Homo sapiens: one gene and its partners. The protein of the gene in region 1 interacts with the protein of each later gene in a biochemical or structural test. Each region holds a gene or a part of one and is shown in the gene's direction. Other genes may lie near its edges.

Region 1 (6,930 bases):
CGCAGGAGCCTACCACCTGCTCACTGGTTTGTAAGTCATTCAGGGGCTGGGCGCTTATAGAGTCACTCAAGGCGGTGACTCACACCTGTAATCCCAGCACTCTGGGAGGCCGAGGCAGGTGGTTCACTTGAAGTCAGGAGTTTGAGACCAGCCTGGCCAACGTAGCAAATGAAAACCCGTCTCTACTAAAAATACAAAAAATTAGCTGGGCGTGGTAGCACATGCCTCTAATCCCAGCTACTCGGGGAGGCTGAGGCAGAGGCTGCAGTGAGCTGAGACCGCACCACTGCACTCCAGCCTGGGTGACAAGAGTGACACTGTCTCAAAAAAAAAAAAAGTCACTGGACTCCCCCAAGCCAGTCCCCTACATTTCACATCAGGAGGGTCACCTATGGTGCCTCCTGCGTCGGGCTGTGGTGGGTTCCCACACGAACCCCCATATCTCTACTCCCCATGGTAGTCAGAGGAGCCTTTAAAAAGGGTAAATTTGCCGGGCACGGTGGCTCACGCCTGTAATCCCAGCACCTCTGGAGGGGGAGGCAGGAGGATTGCTTGAGGCCAGTCTGGGCAACAGAGTGAGAGCCCATCTTTTAAATTAAATTTAAAAATATAAAAATAAAATGGCTGGGCGCGGTGGCTCACGCCTGTAATCCCAGCACTTTGGGAGGCTGAGGCAGGTGGACTGACTGAGGTCAGGAGTTCGAGACCAGTCTGGCCAACATGGTGAAACCCTGTCTCTACTAAAAATACAAAAAAATTAGCCGGGTGTGGTGGTGTGTGCCTGTAATCCCAGCTACTCGGGAGGCTGAGGCAGGGGAATTGCTTGAGCCAGGGAGGTGGAGGTTGCAGTGAGCCGAGATTGCGCCACTGCACTCCAGCCTGGACGACAGAGCAAGACTCCATCTCTAAATAAATAAATAAATAATTTTTATTAAAGGGTAAATCAGTCAAATTTCCAAAAGAATTTTGAGAATCCAGAGCCCATTGCTCTGATAATTAAATTCAACATCTGGACCCAGCTTGGCAAGTGCTCTGTGATCCAGCCCGTTACCTACCTCTCATCTCATCTCTCGGCCATGCTCCAAGAAGTGTCTGCTCCCCAAGTGCATAAGCTCATGCCCCCAGGCCCATGTCCTTGCCTCTCCCTCTGCCTGGGACACTCTTCCTCCAGATCTTTACACTTTTGCCTCTTTTTTCAGCCTCAGCTCAAACATCACCTCCTCCCAGAGGTCTTCCCTGACCACCCCAGGGATAGCAGCCCTCCCGCTTCCCCAGGCACTCCCACATTACCTTCTTTATCATTTTCTTCCAGAGCTCTTAGGATGATCTGAACTTCTCTCATAAACTGGCTTATTCACCTGTGAACTGCCTGCTTCCCTCGCTATAACTGAAGCACTGGAAGAGGTCCTGCACCCAGCAGGCACTCAATGAGTATCTGAGGAATGAGTGAATGAAATGCCCAGTGCACAATCAACCTCCACAAAAGCAGTTTTTCTTTTCACATATAACTCATCGCTATCACAGCCCCTCTCCTTGCTCACCCGCCTCGCTGAGGGGCTCCTGAGAACCTCCGTAGAGGTCTCCATCAGCCAAAAAGCATCTGCACCGTCAGAGAGGGCCCCTCACTGCCGCTCGCAGTGCTCCCTGCTGCCACGTGCAGCCCCTTGAGCATGAGCCTGTTGACACAGGTTGGCACACGGTGTCTGGCTTCTGTAAATGCTCTCTGCTCCCAGGTGTGCCGTGCCCCATTGAAGGACAGCACTCACACTCCTCCAGGTATTAACTGACTTTTTCCCCAGCAATGTTTGTTTTAGGGATTAAAGTTTGTGGAGGAGCCTATAATTTCCAGACTCATCTGTTCCTTTCCTGGCAGCCAGCACATTTGTCATTCTATTTTTCCCAAGTCCCTGATAATACCGTTCCAGACATGTTGATTTGATGGCATCAGTCAACGGAAAGACTCTCTGGGGCCTGCCGTAGGCCAGAGGACAGGCTCTCCGGGCCACACTCAGGGGCGACTGAGCCAACTCTTCACGCCATTCCTTTCCTTCCCTGCCTAGGACGACCTTACAGCCCATGATCGCTTTTCTTCTTCTTCTTCTGTTTGTTTTTTCTTCCTGTTTTCTTTTTAAGTACTACAGTGACCCCTTATTTATTCAGCAAAGAAATGGACTACTCCACAGTAGTGAATTTTCAAAATAATGCCCTTCAAGCACTAAAACTTTAAACAACACATCTTCAAAACAGCTTTGCTGAGGTATAACTGACACACTATAAACGGCATGGATTTAAAGTGTACAACTTGATATGTTTTGATATATGGACACACCCATGAAACCATCACCACAATCAAGATAATGAACATGTCCATCATTCCCAAAAGTTTCCTCCCGCCCCTCCCTGCCCCCTTCCCCAAGCAAGCACTGATCTGTTTTCCAAATACGTCTTTAATGCTACAAGGGCTCACACACCTCCCCACCTTAGAAAATGGAGTATGATCAACATGATTGATCCTTTCCTTGATTCAGCATTATCACCAACACGATGGAAAGTGATCTCAGATGTCATGAGGATGCATGATTGTTTGCCCTGATCACTAAACGGCCCATTGTTGTGCTGGCATACTGGGCAGTTTCAAGTTTGGGAGTTTTCTCCCTCACTGCTAGCTGTCTCAGAGCTTAGTTCCCAGCAGACAACTCTTGCTGCCTCGAACCCTGGCACACTAACCACCATCCTGTGACGTTCCCACTCCTCATTCTGCGACAGTGGTTCTTTGCTGGGAGAGATTTTTGTCTCCCAAGGGACATTTGGCAATACCTGGAGATCTTTTTGGTTGTCATCATGGGAGCGGGAATGCTACTAGCAGCTAATGTTTAGTGACTAGGGATGCGACTGAACATCCTGCAATGTAGAGTGCAGTGTCCCCTACAGAGAATTATCCGACCCAAGATGTTGATAATGCCAAGGTTGAGAAACCCTGTTCAGGATGACAAACTGATTGAAAACTCAACAAGGGGACCGGGCGTGGTGGCTCACGCCTAATAATCCCAGCACTTAGGGAGGCCGAGGTGGGTGTATCACTTAAGGTCAGGAGTGCGAGACCAGCCTGGCCAACATGGCAAAACCCCATCTCTACTAAAAATACAAAAAAAAAAAAAAAAAATACGAGTGGCGTAAGCCTGTAATCCCAGCTACTTGGGAGGCTGAAGCATGAGAATCGCCTGAACCCAGAAGGCAGAGGTTGCAGTGAGCTGTGATCAGGCCATTGCATTCCAGCCTGGGCAACAGAGCGAGACTCTTGTCTAGAAAAAAAAAAAACAAACCCATAAAACAAACAAACAAAAAAAACTATGAGGATTGAGTGATTCACATTTCTGAATCGAGAGAGAGAAGGATGGGCAGCAGGCTTGTTGAAGCTGGAAGGCCAGGGAGGTCGCAGACTGAGGAAGACCCTGGTGTGTCCCAGGTACCTCCATGCAACCCTACTAGAGAGGTGGTCTCTGGCTTCCTATGGACAAGCTCTAAGGGACCCAGCTATGGGGCACCAGAGCCCAGCGTTCAGCAGCTGCTCAATGAATGTCTGCCAGGCGAGACTGCACCCAAAGCATTTATTAGGTACATAATTGTGGCAGCACTGGCTGGCCATGGAAGGCAAGGCAGAACACAAGGAGCTGGAGCTGGCGGAAGGAAGTCATTAAGTCAGCCAGTGGCTGGGATGCAGCAAAGCCAGGCAGAAGGTAAGTGCAGACCCACCCCAATAAATGAGGAAAATGAGAAGGGCTGGCTGGCCATGTTAGGATCCAGTTCCAGTGCGACCAGATATGTCACCACCACATCACTTTTAGCTCCTCCCCCCACCCACAGACACCCTGTTTGCCTGTCATATAAAGAAGGTTTTCCCAAAGTGGTTTAGCCAGAACTGGAAGGGCCCCGCCCTGTGAAGGGATAGGAGCCTGACTGTTGCAGCTGCAGTGAGTGGCGGGGAAGCAGCAGCGGCCAGGATGAATCCCAGGTGCTCTGGAGCTGGATGGTGAAGTATGGACATGCTTTATTCGATTTTGCATTGACTTAAAGGTTTAATTATTTTAGGAGTTCTTGTAGACATTCCTGAAAAATGCAGGTAGGCAAAAAGAAGAAAACAAAGATCGCAAATGTGACCCTTTCATTCGGAGAGAACACCAATGGAATTTTGTTGTGCACCCTTCTATGCACGTCTGAATGTTGTGTAGACATTCTGCTTACAACTAGGTGTGGGTGCTGCTGCCGAAGGCTTTATTTGCTGTGCCTGAGGTGGACCAGAGATTTCAGAGAAGACTCCCAGAGCACCCCAAGGAGACAACAGGAGTGCTTGGAGTCAGGATGACTGGGTGGATTTAGGACTATGTGATTCTCAGGAGCCTCTCTGGATTAGCCCCAAATCAAGGATAAAGAGAGGCCTAGCTGGACTCTTCCTCCCAGAGCCCTGCTGGGAAAATGGAGCCCCTTTACAGCCCCCACTTACCCATCAGGCCCTGCTCCTCTCACTCATCTCCAGACTTCTGTCACATGCCCAAGTCCTGCTAACTGCTGTGTAAAACTGGTAAGGTGGGATCCAGAGGACCTTGGGCCCCTAGGGCCCCAGGTCAGGAGACCTGGGCTCCAGGGCCAGTTGAGAGTGATAAAGAGAACAATACCTGCCCACAGGACTTGTTGCAATGAGATAAAGGCAGAAGTCACCAGTTGTGGTCAAATGGGATTTTTTTCCAGAGAAGTCTCACAGAGAGTGGCTTTCAAATTCTTTTTAGCAGCAGAATTGTTGTAAAATACAATCTCATGTGAAACCCTAAAATGTGAGACACTCTGGGTGAAGCAGAGAGAGGTGCTCAACTGCCCAATCCTGTCCTCATTCCTCCCTCTCAGGGAGGCACCTCTGAGAACCCACTTTAAAGAATTTTGCCTTATGCAGATTGAAGAGGCAAGCTGGCTGGAAGAAACTGGGAAGCTCCACTTCCCACCGCCTCTGCCTGGGTGGCAGTCATCTGAGCCTAGGCTAGCCCCTCCCCCTCCAAAGACCCACTGCGGGCTCCCCTGGGGCCAGTCTCCAGGATGGGTGGGGCACCTGAAGCAGCAAGTATTGCTATTTTTCTGGGCTGACCTTTCTTCTAGGCCTGAGGACAAGTGGGTAGGTGGGGCCAGCCCTGTCCCTGTTTCCCCTCAATGGAGTTCTCTTGCTCACAGCCTAAGGAAGAAGCGTGAGTCACTTCCTGCCTCAGTCTGACTGCTGGAGTATTGTTCTCCCAACTGTGGCTGGCGCTACCCAGTGTGGCCCCTACAAGTCTTAGTTCCTTGGCGGAGGGGAAGTCCCCACTTTGGGACAAGGCCAACTGGACTTATCTTCCCGCTCAACTTTGAGGACCCAGCATTGTTCCTCCAGTTTCCAGTTCTTGCAGTGTTTGTAAAGGTGCCCGAATCGTACCTGATCCCATTCACTAAATATTATCTCCATTTTATAGAGGGGTAAATTGAGGAAGTCCCTGAGAAATTAACTTGTCTAAGGTGTCCCAGCAAAAAATAGTGCCCCAGGGATTTGAACCGGTTTGCTGATTGATTTTTCACCAGTTGCCTTAAGAATTATCATGATTTAACCTCTCTGGGCCTCAGTTTCCTCCTCTATAAAATGCAGACAGTGATACATCAAAGGTACTTAAAGGAAAATGTACTGTACCCACCTCATGGGGCATGTGGTGAGGATAAAACGGGTTGACACAGGAAAAGAGCTCTCAATGGTGCCTGGCTCATAGAAAACACTCAGTGGATTTTTTTTTTCCCATTACCCGGGAACCTGTGTTAAGGAGGCCACAGGCTGATCCTGTGCAGCCAGGTTATCTCACAGGGAGCGAGAAGAGATGGGCACAGGCTACTCTGCGACCTTGGAATAACCCAGCCTGGGAAGCTCCTGGCCACATTTTCCTTCTTTTCTTTCTCAGCTCAAGCAGCGTCGGCCTCAGCCAAGTAGCACAAACGTTTTCTAGGGCCCAGGGAGGGAGAGGCTCCGGCTGGTATATTGCAAGTAGCTTGGATTCAGGCTCTGCCAAACACCCCAGTCTCTTGCAGGATCTGAGGTCTGCTGGTTGTGGGACTTTGCGCAAATTATTTAAACGTTGTGCGCCTCAGTTTCCTTATCTGTAAAATGGGATTAATAATCTCAGCCTGAAAGGATTATGTGGATTAAATCATGTACATAAGAAGGAGATAATGTAAAGTGACTGGCCTGGTGCCTGGCAAGCGGTTGGTGTCTAAAAAGAAAAAAAAGCTAAAAATATTAAAAGGAGGTGGGCTACTTCTGCTCATATATCCACCTGTCTATACAAATGCAGACGAAGTCGTGACTCCTCTAACAGTAGGCCAAGAGGAGGCTGGTCCTGCCGCCGTGCAGTCCTCCCTCGACCTGGGAGTGGAGGACCCCAGGTCCGCCGTCCCTGGGCACTTAACCCGGTCAGGCTCAAATTCGTCGCCCAGGAGTGGGGAAGCGGGGGACGGAGAGGGCCAGTCCCCCAAGAGTCCGGCTGAGGCAGGGCTCGGAGTGCCTCCCCCAAGCCTTTCCCTTTGGTTCCGAGTTCGGGTCTCCGCGGCCGTCTTCCCGGGGAGCTCGCGGGGCGAAGAGCCGAGCCCGGGGGCGGGGGCACGGCAGCGGGGCCTGAGGGACGCGCCGGGCGGCCGCGAGGACTTTGGGATCGCCTGCCCCACTTCCTACCTGCCCCTACCAGGAGCCGGAGGCAGCGGGCGCCCCAGAAGGCCCCGCAGGGCCGCCGCGCGGGGCCGGACGCGCTGGGGCCCACGGCGCTGGGAACGCGGGCCCGCAGTCGGGCCCGGGCGGCATGGGCGGCCGAGGGGCGCCCGAGCCGCCGCGGCGGTCGCCTGGAAAAGTTTCCCCGCCAGGGCTCCCCAGGG
Region 2 (7,026 bases), on another chromosome or scaffold:
CTGTCTTCCATAATGGTTGAACTAGTTTACAGTCCTACCAAGAGTTTAAAAGTGTTCCTTTTTCTCCACATCCTCTCCAGCACCTGTTGTTTCCTGACTTTTTAATGATCACCATTCTAACTGGTGTGAGATGGTATCTCATTGTGGTTTTGATTTGCATTTCTCTGATGACCAGTGATGATGAACGTTTTTTCACGTGTCTGTTGCCTGCATAAATGTCTTCCTTTGAGAAGTGTCTGTTCATATCCATTGCCCACTTTTTGATGGGGTTGTTTGTTTTTTTCTTGTAAATTTGTTTGAGTTCTTTGTAGATTCTGGATATTAGCCCTTTGTCAGATGGGTAGATTGCAAAAATTTTCTCCCATTCTGTAGGTTGCCTGTTTACTCTGATGGTAGTTTCTTTTGCTGTGCAGAAGCTCTTTAGTTTAATTAGATCCCATTTGTCTACTTTGGCTTTTGTTGCCATTGCTTTTGGTGTTTTAGTCATGAAGTCCTTGCCCATGGCTATGTCCTGAATGGTATTGCCTAGGTTTTCTTCTAGGGTTTTTATGGTTTTAGGTCTAACATTTAAGTCTTCAATCCATCTTGAATTAATTTTTGTATAAGGTGTAAGGAAGGGATCCAGTTTCAGCTTTCTACATATGCCAGTTTTCCCAGCACCATTTATTAAATAGGGAATCCGTTCTCCATTTCTTGTTTTTGTCCGGTTTGTCAAAGATCAGATGGTTGTAGATGTGTGGTATTATTTCTGAGGCCTCTGTTCTGCTCCATTGGTCTATATCTCTGTTTTGGTACCAGTACCATGCTGTTTTGGTTACTGAAGCCTTGTAGTGTAGTTTGAAGTCAGGTAATGTGATGCCTCCAGCTTTGTTCTTTTTGCTTAGGATTGTCTTGGCAATGTGGGCTCTTTTTTGGTTCCATATGAACTTTAAAGTAGTTTTTTCCAATTCTGTGAAGAAAGTCATTGGTAGCTTGATGGGGATGGCATTGAATCTATAAATTACCTTGGCCTGCCCAGCTTTTAAAGCCAGCTTCTCTGGAAAGTCTTTCCAGGATTCTGTAGAGGTTTTCTTCTTATTATTTATTTATTTACTTGTTTTTTTCTGAGGATTTCCATAGCACTTTCAAAATTATCCTGTTATAGAGCACCTGACTGGCTTGAAACTACGCATTTCCATATGTGTGTCTTCTTTAGGGTGTAAGCTTCTGGGCAGTGATTAACGCATTTATTTTTCATTTTCTCCTCCCAAAACAGGTAGTGAACATTCTACATAAATGCTCTTTGAATAAACTCACTTTTGGATGTTGTATGGGGATGGGGGAGTGGAGGAGGTAGTTCGTAGGTATTTGGGGCTCCCAGGAGGAGGACAATATCATATACTTGGAAACGTAAGGCTTGCTTTTGAGGCTGACTCTCACTTTTTCTGTGAGTCCTGTGGACAGTATTTAATTGCCTCTGTCTTTGTTTGTTTGCCTGAAAAGGAAAAACTAGTTTAATGCCAATTTATTTGGTTGGCTGGAAATAAAAACTTCTGATTCCTGTGTTTTTATAACACAATCTAATTGTGGCATTGGCACCTAAAGTATTATTTTGTATTAAAATTAATTGCTTTTTAGAAATATTGGGTAAAGTCCATTTTGTTTAAAGTTCCAACCCTTTCAAAAGCTATAAAGTCCAAATGAGATTGGAACACCAGGAAGACAGGGGGAAGAGTCATTCTGTTACCTGGTTTTCTCCCCTGCCTGACTTCTGACCTGAGCAGAGGCCAAGGGGGTGCACTTGTGTGTGAGTGTGTGCACATGTATTGTGGCTGCAGGGTAGATATTGATGGGAAATACCACATACTGACCAGCACCTGAGTGTTGAAAAGGAATGGAAGTGGGGACATGAGATGAAGGAAGAGGAAAGATGGAAGAAATCAGAAGTAGCAGTTTGCAACTAAGAGCAGTTAAAATGTAAAGATGAGATTGATGCAATAGTTCAGTTCATTCAGAACTATTGAAACTATTGATTCAATAGTTCAGACAGGATGATTAAACACACCTACACACACACACACACACACACACACACCCCAACCTAAGTTCATGCTTGCTTCACCCTGAGTCCAAAGCTCTTATGCTAAGGTTGGATCAAATCCAAATTTATTTGTGTCTCTGTCTTACCCAGTTTACCCAATTCTCTCCATCTTTAAGTTTCTTTGGTGCCACCTTCTGGTTGGCCCAGTTCTATGAAGTCTGAATATTCCTTCCTGCCTCCCAGTCTCTGAAATGTCCTCGAGTGAAAGATGAGGTTGTGGAGGACCCCGGGACTTGCCTGCACATACTACTCTGCCTTCCAACATCTGCAGACCCTAGTATAAGCTCTGGAGAGGTCTTATGATGTGAGGATAGTGAGAAACAGGAATATTTTGTTCCATAATAAACAACCTCTTAAGTATAGAGTACTGTTGTGCAAATTATGTCATGATTGTGTTTTCTTGGTTCACATTTATTTTACTTAGTTTTCTGAACCCTAACCATAACCCTAACCCTACTTGTTTTTTTCTGAACTGCACTAACATTTATTTTAAACTTTAAAGAATTTGCACTGCTTTAGACTGTTGTTCTATATTTAGAGTGTTGCCTTTACACTTTAAAAAAATATATAAGCTCACTTTTTTGTTTAAGTAAGAGACACCCTTCTGTTGAAAAATATCTTAGGAGGAAGCGAAATATCTTAGGAGGAAGCAAAACATCCAACAGTGAAGATACTTTGGTTAATACAGTTGTTCCCCACTTCCTTGTCTCAGCCACTCAATTCCCCTTTCCTCCTGTGCTCTAAGAGACCCAGAAGACCTGTCCAAGACCCCCACTAAGGGCATACAGTTTCAGAGCTGCTGCAACAGGCACTTTGTAGGCCGCTGGGAAACTGGATGAGGCTCCATCTGTTTATAGAAATGAACACATGCACGATAATTTATATCTCTAGATAGAGTTTCCAGGACTTTTCATTTTGCTCATTTGCTAATTTTCCAAACTGGAGCATATTTTTCTTGTTTGACTACATTTTTCAGTTAAAATTATACATGTTTATGAAAAAAAGGATAATATAATAGAAAAAATATCTGTAGGATCATGAGATTATAGATAATGATTTGTCCTTTTATTTTCCCAAATGTTCTCAATTGTAAGAACAAAAAGGCTGAGGGAAATTGAGATGAGTTGGTGAACTGCAATATTTTATGAAATAGCCCACGTTTTTATAGGGTTTAATAGATATAAACAACAATGTAGGACTTATAATAATGCACTAAAATTATAATAATAGTAAACTGTAATAGCTTTTTAGCACTTTAAGCAAGGTGCCCCCCTAGATTAGGCTCCTACCTTCCACAGAACTGGTTGATAGGGATGCTATCTTTCTTGATGATTACATTTCAAAAGGATGGCTTCCAGGTCTTTGAGAGACTGTCCTGGGATGTAAAACTAGCAAGAAGCTTTTTTAAAAGATTTACATCTCAAAGGGGCTGATAAAGAATTTACAATGACAAGTTCTCTAAATAAAATGCTTTAAGAAAAAGGAAGAAAGGGCCTAGAGGCAGGAGGAAGCCTGTTTAGTTTGTTTATTTAGTCAAGTTTAGGTTGTCTAAAGTTAATTCAAGCTGAGGGGAATGTTAAGACCCTCTTAGCCAGGAGGATCCAAAAATCAATGCATCTAATTAAAAGTGCTCCCTCGATGACAAGATTAGGGCTTCATATTTTATATCCATGCCTATGGACTTTCTTTGCAACTCCGTAACCCAGTTTCAGCAACTCTTGGGGAAAATGGGGCATCTTTTTGGAGTCACTTTAAAAAGTAATTTTTTTTTTTTTTGTCTTTCCAGTAGCCTCATATTTCAGGCCAGCCTATCTCAAACAAACCCTCCAAATTTGGTGAAATGTATCTAGCTGTTTTCACAGGAAGTGATGACAGAAATACAGTTTTTATTGATAAAGAATTACATATATAAGTTTTAGAACATTCTTTATAGATTATATTGGAGACATTAAACTGAAAGATAATTAGCAGCAATAGGGGGATTTTGTGTAATGATTAAGAATTCAGGCTCTGGAATCAAACTGTGGGTGCCAGGCGTTTATGACTACCTGAGGGTTCTGGAATGAGTTACTAAACCTCACTCAGTCTTCTCATCTCTAAAGTGGGGCAATAACTATACTGACCTCAATGTGTTATTGGGTGATAATGGAAAGTGCTGAAAACAGTGCCTGGCACCAAGATCTTTTTTTTTTTTTCCTGAGATGGAGTCTCACTCTGTTGCCCAGGCTGGAGTGCAGTGGCGTGATCTCGGCTCTCTGCAGCCTCCACCTCCTGGGGCTCAAGTGATTCTCCTGCCTCAGCCTTCCAAGTAGCTGGGATTACAGGTGCCCGCCACCATGCCTGGATAATTTTTGAATTTTCAATAGAGATGGGGTTTCACCTTGTTGGCCAGGCTGGTCTCGAACTGCTGACCTCAAGTGATCTGCCTGCCTTGGCTTTCCAAAGTGCTGGGATTACAGGTGTGAGGCACCACACCCGTCCGCACAAAGACCTTTTGGCTGCTGCTATACCAAGGGAGGAAGTAAGCAGGTGTTGCAGGGTGTCTGTGCCCCTGTTGCTAAGAGGGATACAAGTCATAGGCCCTGAGATTGGCTATTTTATGAATAAACCAGTGTTTTTGTTTCCTATTGGTGTGATAACACTTTACCACAAATTTAGTGGCTGAAAAATGACACACATTTATTATCTTATGGTTCTGGAAGTCCTAAGTCCAAAATGGTACAGCATAGCAATGTTATTTTCTGGAGTCTCTAGAAGAAAATCTGTTCCTTGCCTTTTCTGGCTTCTCGAGGAGGTTGCATTCCTTCATCAGTGGCCCCTATCCCTCTGACCTCTGCTTCCGTCCTCATGTCTCTGTCTCTGACTCTGCCCCTCCTGCCTCTCTCTTTTAAGGACGCTCGTGATTCCATTAAGCCCACTGGGATAACTCAGGATAATCTCAGATCTCAAAATACTTAACTGAATACCATTTGCAAAGTCCTTATTGCCAGGGCAGATCATGTAGTCACAGGTTTTGGGAATTAGGAGTGGAAGTCTTTGGAGGGTGGTTCTTCCACCTACCACCTCAGCGTCCACTGACTGGGGGATGAATGACTGCGTGGCTACCGGAGTCATTGGCTTATGTGCTTTTCCCTGCTGTGCCTTTGATGCAGACCTTCTCTGATGGATGACCTCTGTGAAGCAAATGGCACTTTTGCCATCAGCTTATTTAAAATATTGGGGGAAGAGGACAACTCAAGAAACGTATTCTTCTCTCCCATGAGCATCTCCTCTGCCCTGGCCATGGTCTTCATGGGGGCAAAGGGAAGCACTGCAGCCCAGATGTCCCAGGTATGTGTGCTTGTCACAAAGGAAGGAGAACAGTGTGTTTCCCTTGTGCTTCCATACAGCTGTCTTTCTGTACTTTTGCTCTAGCTGAGGCCTGTGGAGCTGGAGGTAGAAGGAGGAGCAGCTCGGCAGTGGAGAAGAGCAGAAAGGGGTAGAAAGGTGAAATGTGTTGGACAGATCATCTCCTCTGATGTTTATGGGAGAAGTCAAGCCATAGAGTTATTTTCTCTAGATCAGATCATCAATACAGTCTGGCAAATTCACATCTTTGATAAGTAGGATAAAGTATAATTCTGTCCCACAAGAAAGCAAAATATTCCAATTTTGTTACATTTTAAACTTTTGCTAACATTATATTTTTAATAGACATGTGGGTGCGTAGATTAACTTTTTGTTAAGTGGGTTATTTTAGTGCATGATTATGCATCCTAGAAGAGGAATGTAACACAAGTGTGGACTTATATCTTCTGGAGTGATTTGAGGAATATATAATCTGTTTGATTCAAAATGGTGATGTATGACCTTATCTACAAACGAGGTGTGGGATAATGCTTTAGGAACAGTTCTCTGACTATTGGTGAAGATGTCCCAGATAATTGCCAAATGGATATCATTTTGCCACCAATATCAGGAGTGTATAGACAGTCTCCTAAAATGCACCCAGGGACCCCAGTTGACATCCTTCTGTGGTTGTTTCTTTCAACTGATTGGAGGAGTGAGGCTTTGGACTGGGGGTGATCGAGAGATATAGGAATAACCTTAATTCTCACTCTGACTTGACATTTAATTTATAATATGGTCTGGAGAACTTCTGTAAAATTGCAGATGAAACATTTTTAGTTTTATTGCTGCTTTTGTTTGTATTACCCGAGTTGTAATTCATCCCAGTTACTTACTTTTTTCTGTTCTGCCTTCCCCCTGAATTATCGCACACTGCCTTGCTGGCATGAATAAATTTGCTAGACTAGTGGTTCTCACCTGGTGGGTGGGAGGTAGGGGTCGGTGGGTGAATTTTTCCTTCCTGGGGACCCTTGCGAAGACCTGGAGTTTTAGATCCCATAACTGAGAGGTGCTACTGACATCTAGTGGATGGAAGCCAGAAGTGCTGCAAAAATCCTACAATGCTTATATGAGACAAGGAAGTGTCCTGGCCCCAAATGTCAATGCTGCATTGCCCACGTTGAGAAACCCTGTGCTAGACAATTAGGCCAAACCTTTTTAAAGTAGGATCCTGTGTGGTTTTTTTAGTACAGAGGTTTGTTTGGAGAAAGCTCTTTGGGAGAGTATAATGGCAGCGTTAAAAGTCAGTGTTGGTTTCTGTTCCCAGGCACTTTGTTTATACAAAGACGGAGATATTCACCGAGGTTTCCAGTCACTTCTCAGTGAAGTTAACAGAACTGGCACTCAGTACTTGCTTAGAACTGCCAACAGACTCTTTGGAGAAAAGACGTGTGATTTCCTTCCAGTAAGTAGTATTCACATATTGATGACAAAGAAATTGAAAGTAAGTTAGACTACAGAAGAGCAGATAATAAAGTATAACTGTACTGACTTAAAACGTGCTTGGAATTACACTTCTGAAATTACAATTTTAGATTTTATGATGACTTCTGAATTAC
Region 3 (7,026 bases), on another chromosome or scaffold:
CTACTATCATTTTTTTATTTTGATGCACAAACTTATCAGATTTGGCCCATGGGAGCCCCTTCATGCCAGCTTTGAGTCCTTAGTAATATGTCTCATCATTCGTTACATCCTACCGTACTTTCTGGTACAAAACATTTCAGGCTCATCTTGTACTTTCCCTGACCCAGCTCCCAGAATGAGCAGATTCTCTGAGGAGCCCTGGTTCTTTTCAGTAGAGGATGGTGTTCAGAAACCAAGATCTGGGTACCAGGAGTGCCCATGTCCCCAACTGGGTGTCATGCACTCCCACTGAGCAGACAGAGCTGAGAAAGATCTGTCTGTATGCACACATGTGCTCGTGTCTACACACGTCACAGCTCCTTTCAGGTCTAGGTCCAGATCTATCTAACCGTGAGCACACATCGATAATTTCAGTTCCAACCCAATGCCTTTTTATAGCTTTTCTTTCTCCATGTTTCTAATTCCCTTTTGGAATGGTAAGAAGTCAGGCTGTGGGCTGGGCGCAGTGGCTTACGCCTGTAATTCCAGCACTTTGGGAGGCTGTGGCAGGCGGATCACGAGGTCAGGAGATCGAAACCATCCTGGCTAACACGGTGAAACCCCATCTCTACTAAAAATACAAAAAATTAGCCGGGCATGGTGGCGGGCGCCTGTAGTCCCAGCTACTCGGGAGGCTGAGGCAGGAGAATGGCGTGAACCCAGGAGGTGGAGCTTTCAGTGAGCCGAGATTGCGCCACTGCACTCCAGCCTGGGCGACAGCGCGAGACTCCATCTCAAAAAAAAAAAAAAAAAAAAAAAAAGGCTGTGATTATTCTCAATACATGTACTCATTGGTGCAGCTCCCTGTGTGCCAGGCAGTTCCTCTCAATCCTAACAGGAAGAAGAAAGCAGCCGCTAATCTGTTTTTAAAATTATTTCTGTACTTTAGTAAATTAAATAGGAACAATTTTGTGGCCATGATAGAAAATTTGAGATAGTTCCAGCCCGTCTTTCTGTCCTGCTCAGTCAGTGTTTGTGTCAGTGTGGAGACGGGGCAGTGAATTCCCGCCAGCACCCACTGCCCCTGCTACGCCAGGCTCTGCCATTCCCTGTAGACTGGGCTCCTTTTCCTCATTGCCAGTGACAGGCGACCACCACCTATAGGCCTGGCCTCACCCAGACTCAAGAGCAAGTTTCTCTGTGAAGGACTTACACTAAAATTAGTCTTAGAGATTAGCAACCATTTCTTTCCTTCCTTCCTTCCTTCCTTTTTCTTCCTTTCTTTCCTTTCCTTCCTTTCCTTTCCCTCCCTCCCTCCCTCCATCTTCCTTCCTTCCTTCTCTCTCTCGCTCCCATTCTTTCTTCCTTTCTTCTTTTTCTTTTCTTTTTTTTTTTTTTTTCCTGAGATAGAGTCTCACTCTGTCACCCAGGCTGGAATGCAGTGGTGCAATCACAGCTCACTACAGCCTCGACTTCCTGGGCTCAGGTGATTCTCCCACCTCAGCCTCCTGAGTAGCTGCAACTACAGGCATGCGCCACCACACCCAGCTGATTTTTTTATTTTTAGTAGAGACGGGGTTCCACCATGTTGCTCAGGCTGGTCTCAAACTCCTGGACTCAAGCAATCTGCCCGCCTCAGCCTCCCAAAGTGCTGGGATTGCAGGAACAGGCTACTGTGCCCGGCCAAGCAACCATTTTCTTTTCTTTTCTTTTTTAGATGGAGTGTTGCTCTGTGACCCAGGCTGGAGTGCAATGGCACAATCACGACTCACTGCAACCTCTGCCGCCTGGGTTCAAGTGATTCTCCTGCCTCAGCCTCCTGAGTAGCTGGGACTACAGGCGCCCACCACCACACCTGGCTAATTTTTTGTATTTTTAGTAGAGACGGGGTTTCACTATGTTAGCCAGGATGGTCTTGATCTCCTGACCTCATGATCCGCCTGCTTTGGCCTCCCAAAGTGCTGGGATTACAGGTGTGAGCCACCACACCTGGCCCGAGCAGCCATTTTCAATCTTTGATTGTTATCTTTAAGCACATGGCCCTGACCAGCACTTCTGGGGATAATTTTAAAGTTAAGACCTTAGGCCAAATGCAGTGGCTCACGCCTGTAATCCCAGCACTTTGGGAGGCCAAGGCAGGAGGATTGCTTGAGCCCAAGATTTCGAGATCAGACTGGGCAACATAGTGAGACCCCATCTCTACATAAAATTTAAAAATTAGCCAGGCATGGTGGTGTGTGCCTGTGGTCCCAGCTACTGAGGCTGAGGCGGGAGGATCACTTGAGCCTGGGAGGTCGAGACTGTAGTGAGCTGTGATCACACCAGTGCGTGCCAGCCTGGGTGACAGAGTGAGACCCTGCCTTTAATAATAATAAAAAACAGGCTGGGTGCAGTGGCTCACACTTGTTATCCCAGCACTTGGGAGGCCGAGGCGGGCAGATCATGAGGTCAGGAGTTTGAGACCAGCCTGGCCAACATAGTGAAACCCTGTCTCTACTAAAAATGCAAAAAATATTAGCTGAGCGTGGTGGCAGACGCCTGTAATCCCAGCTACTTGGGAGCCTGAGGCAGGAGAATCGCTTGAACCTGGGAGGCAGAGGTTGCAGTGAGCCGAGATCACGCCACTGCACTCCAGCCTGGGCGACAGTGAGAGACTCCGTCTCAAAAATAATAATAATAATAATAATAATAATAATAATAATAATAATAATAATAAACAAAGTAAGACCGTGAAGCAGTAGGACAGTAGGCATGGATTTGAAAGTAAGGAAGAAAACGTATCAGCAGAATGCTGTTGCCCCTGGGGTCTTGTGCATTCCTTGGCTGTGTTTCTCCAGGTGCCTCTGTAGTAACACGCCTCCACCACCTCCCCTGGCTCCTAGGTGATGCAGCATCCTAATGAAGGCGCACTGGTGCTTGGCCTACACAGCAACGTGAAGGATGTCTCTGTGCCTGTGGCAGAAATAAAGATCTACTCCCTGTCCAGCCAACCCATTGACCATGAAGGAATCAAATCCAAGCTTTCTGGTAAGAAGCATGCAGCATCTGGAGACCCTACGAAGAGGGAGCCCATCCTGGGAAAGGTGAACAAGACAGTGCCTGAGATGTTCCTGGGCAAGAGACCTTTAGAGACCCCTGAAAGTAAAATGTGGCTTCGGCCCTGGCCCTCCCCTCCACCCTGGCTGTGTTTCCACCCAAAGAGAACCATTGATTCCAGCCCATCGAAGTTTCTTAGGCCAGATCTTCCCATTGCAAGGTTATCTTACTCAGGTGTCTGTTGCAGATCGTTCTCCTGATATTGACAATTATTCTGAGGAAGAGGAAGAGAGTTTCTCATCAGAACAGGAAGGCAGTGATGATCCATTGCATGGGCAGGTAACTTTCTGTGGTCCCTCACATGGCGTGTCCAAGAAGCTCCTGGGGTTTCCCACCCTCATTCTGTCCCTGTACCCACTTAGGACTTGTTCTACGAAGACGAAGATCTCCGGAAAGTGAAGAAGACCCGGAGGAAACTAACCTCAACCTCTGCCATCACAAGGGTGAGCCTCAAAGGTCTGGGGAGTGGTTGGCTAAGATTTTCAGTCTGGGGGTAGGTTGGCAGCAGCATATTCAGGCCTAGTGGAGACTTCTTAAAATCAACACAGGGTCATCCCTTCAACGATTCCAATGAACGCTCTATATCCTCACCACCGCCCAATTAGACTCACTGTTGTTGGGAACCACAATTACTGATAAGAGTGTTATATCCTTCAGGTTATCGTCAGATAGAAAAAAGGAGGAGAACCCTTCTTGTAGAATTCAGAACAGATAGTGGTCCATCAGGGAACAGACCGCCTCCCACCCACTCCAGTGGCTGCTTCATGTCACATGCTGTCCTCTGCAGCGAGAAAGCCAGCTCCCTCTAGGAGTAGCACTAGTTTTAATCATGTGCTGAACTTAGGCAGAGATAATAGGCTAGTCATGGGGTGCTCCTATGACCCTGGGCTTGCTAAGCTTTAATTACATCAGATATCGTTCCTGCCTTAACGGATCCATAACCTTGGAGACCAGGTGCCTTTTGATACTTTTCCTCCATAAGACTTCCTCAAGAGTCACTGTTTTGATGACATTTGAGTCCTGAACTAAGAAGCTAAAAACCTGAATTCCTAGGTGGTCTTTGACAGATTCTGGAGTGCCTGCATGAAGTGTGGGAGGGCCAGAAGTGCTGGGAGCATTTCCGAAGGGGAATTCACAGCTCCATTTACCCAGAGGCATCCTGATTCTCCCCAGTGCAGAGCTAGCCTAGGGACCAAACCCCTGAGAGCCGAGATGCCCACCCCTTCAGGGATGAAACGGAGGCCAGATCACTCTCCCATCACAATGAGGTGTCACTGGACTTCAGGTAAATCCGTGAGACTGTGACCTGGATTTCCCATCCAGTCAGCAACTAGGGAGCGGGAGGACTGTTTCCTTGTCCTCAGGTATCCACCTCTCAATTGGTGCTCCAAATGGTCCCCATGAGGTGTGTCACCAGTACCCCAAATGCTTGACCTCCATTGCACTCTGGAAATAGGGAGTGGCTGTAGGATCTCTCTCTAGTCAGCCCCTACTGCTGAGGCTTTCTTTTTCCTGCTCTGTAACCAGAAAGCGGCCCTATTTTCTTCCCAACGGGTGCCCCCAGAGCTTCATAAGTCACCTCTTCCTACGTGGGGTCTCTTCCTTGGCATGACCCTGGCACATGACTGGAGTTCAGTGCTCCTGCTAATGTATACTCCCCCAGAGGTGTTTCTTTTTAAGCTGCAGGCACTTTCCAGTTCTATCCCAGAGACTCAGTGACCTCCCTTAGTGCCTGTCTCCTCTGTGCATGCGCATTCTTCTCTCCCACCAAGAACACAGATGTACTTGACCTTCTGTGAACATGTCTCATGCTGCTCTGTCACTGGGAGCTCGACTTTTTTTCTCTGCTGTGAATGCCCTTTCTGCCCTTTCTCTGAAGACCTATCAGCCTCGCAAGTTCATTGTTTTCATCCCCAGATGGCGAGTCTGTCATTCAGGCAGGAAGTACATACAACCACAGGCTAAGCATCGTGCCCAGAGACAAAGAGATAGGGCCCAGTCCATGCCATCAAGCGCACAGTGTCTAGTGACACCACACATTTCAACAAATAATTACAGCCCAGTAGGACAGGTGCCATAAGACAGAGCTTTGCAATGACACCAGGGGACTGTGGCCACCTGTCCCAGGAGTGCCAGGACAGCTTCCCAGATGAGATGCTGAGAGATGGGTTTTTTAAAATAAAACTTCACCAAGTGGATTTGGGGAAAATTTTTATTCAAGGCAGAAGATACCCTATATAAAGACCCAGTACAGTGCTGTGGCTCACGCCTGTAATCCCAGCACTTTGGGAGGCCGAGGCAGGCGCATCACAAGGTCAGGAGATCGAGACCGTCCTGGCCAACATGGTGAAACCCCGTCTCTACTAAAAATACAAAAATTAGCTTGGTGTGGTGGCACGTGCCTGTAATCCCAGCTACTCAGGAGGCTGAGGCAGGAGAGTCACTTGAACCAGGGAGGCAGAGGTTGCAGTGATCCGAGATCACCTCACTGCACTCCAGCCTGGCAACAGAGCAAGACTCCATCTCTAAAAAAAAAAAAAAAGGCCCAGTACAACAGCATGCAGTTTTTCCCAGGAACTCAAAGCAGTGAGTTTCCACTTGACTATGGGGTGTGAAGGGTCAAATAGAGAGATAAGGCTAGAAACAGGCAGACCCAGGCTTCGGACACGTACAGGCCTGACTGCTGAGCTCTGTTCAAGTAGTGGAGGCCAATGAAGACTTCTAGTCGGAGGGTAGCATGAGCAGGTTTGCACTCGGAAGGACCACTGTGGGCTGTGGAGGGAGAAAGACCAGAAGCAGGTGGGCAGGGTATGAGATGTCAGCTGAAGGCTGTTGCTATGATCCCAGAGAGGCAAGGAGAAAGGCCTGACTGGAAACAGTGGTGTCACAGATGGAAAAGGGAGGATCTGGGGTAGCTAGAATGGGCCTGCGGGGAGAACGAGAAGGAGAGACTCCAGGCGTAGATGTTGGTTCAGGTGTGTTGGCGACATCAGTAAGAGGATCGGGGTGCAAGGAGAAGACGGGACGCTGCGTTCCACCGTGGAGGTGGTAAGGCTGAGGTGCCCGCGCTGTGCATGCGCAGGTAGGAGTCAGCAGTGGGCACTGTGAATCCGAAGGGCAAGAGAAAGGGATGAGCTGGAGACCCACATTTGGGAGGTGTTGGGGCACAGGGGGGTGGAGGACCTGGGGATAGACATTCCTTCTCCCCGCAGCTGCACCCAAGGCCCAGGAGCTACACTGGAATTTGGCCTGTCTTCCTGACAGGCTTTGAGTGCCAAGGGCAGAGACCAAGTCCTCCAGTCTTCGTGTCTTCCCACAGCTCGTCATGAAAGTGGGCTCTGGTGGGTGTTTATTGACTTGAATTGACCCCAAGTGGACGTTGCTGAGAACTGTCATGCGATTTGTCCCTACAGCAACCTAACATCAAACAGAAGTTTGTGGCCCTCCTGAAGCGGTTTAAAGTTTCAGATGAGGTATGGCCTCTTACTCCCAAGGTTAATGGTGAGTAGAATTCCCCGGGTTTCACCCAGCATCCCTGGAGTACACTCTGTATTGCCACTGAGAGTCAGGATTCTAGGATTAATATTCCTGCTCCCCGTGGCATACCTGGTAGAGCCCTAAGGGAGAGGGTGGCTAAGAAGGACTTAAGCAAGCAGAGGAGAGAGAGGCTATGCACACAACGCAGGGCAGCACAGCTACGCCCGACCCTTGGTGATGCGCAAGCCTCTGGCATGCGATACAGGGACAGACCCAGCGGATGCTGCTGCGGTTGTCACTTAATTTCCCCTCTTATCCCACGGGAACATCAGTGAGCAGCAGCTTGTGAGGTGGAAATGTCCTTGTTGGTCAGCCCTGGAATAACCAGGAATGGGGCTGCTGAGAGAGAAGCAGTCTTTTCCCTGGGCTCCGGGAGGGGCCCGTTTCCACAGGCCTCTCAGTGGGCTAACAGAG

Evidence for each region. The genes of interacting proteins can lie anywhere in the genome.
Region 2: the proteins of FURIN (region 1) and SERPINB8 form a complex in vitro, tested with the Homo sapiens proteins (one study listed by BioGRID).
Region 3: the proteins of FURIN (region 1) and PACS1 form a complex in vitro, tested with the Homo sapiens proteins (one study listed by BioGRID).

Annotation. Positions count from the first base shown.
Region 1 is NC_000015.10:90,864,677-90,871,606, forward strand, and holds the start of FURIN (furin isoform 1 preproprotein), read left to right. Parts: upstream 1-3,911; 5' UTR 3,912-4,035; intron 4,036-6,375; exon of another isoform or gene 6,376-6,474; intron 6,475-6,863; exon of another isoform or gene 6,864-6,929; intron 6,930-6,930. UniProt on the Homo sapiens protein: Ubiquitous endoprotease within constitutive secretory pathways capable of cleavage at the RX(K/R)R consensus motif. Mediates processing of TGFB1, an essential step in TGF-beta-1 activation.
Region 2 is NC_000018.10:63,973,067-63,980,092, forward strand, and holds part of SERPINB8 (serpin B8), read left to right. Parts: intron 1-5,232; 5' UTR 5,233-5,242; coding exon 5,243-5,410; intron 5,411-6,734; coding exon 6,735-6,872; intron 6,873-7,026. UniProt on the Homo sapiens protein: Has an important role in epithelial desmosome-mediated cell-cell adhesion.
Region 3 is NC_000011.10:66,213,258-66,220,283, forward strand, and holds part of PACS1 (phosphofurin acidic cluster sorting protein 1), read left to right. Parts: intron 1-2,861; coding exon 2,862-3,006; intron 3,007-3,262; coding exon 3,263-3,354; intron 3,355-3,437; coding exon 3,438-3,518; intron 3,519-6,488; coding exon 6,489-6,548; intron 6,549-7,026. UniProt on the Homo sapiens protein: Coat protein that is involved in the localization of trans-Golgi network (TGN) membrane proteins that contain acidic cluster sorting motifs.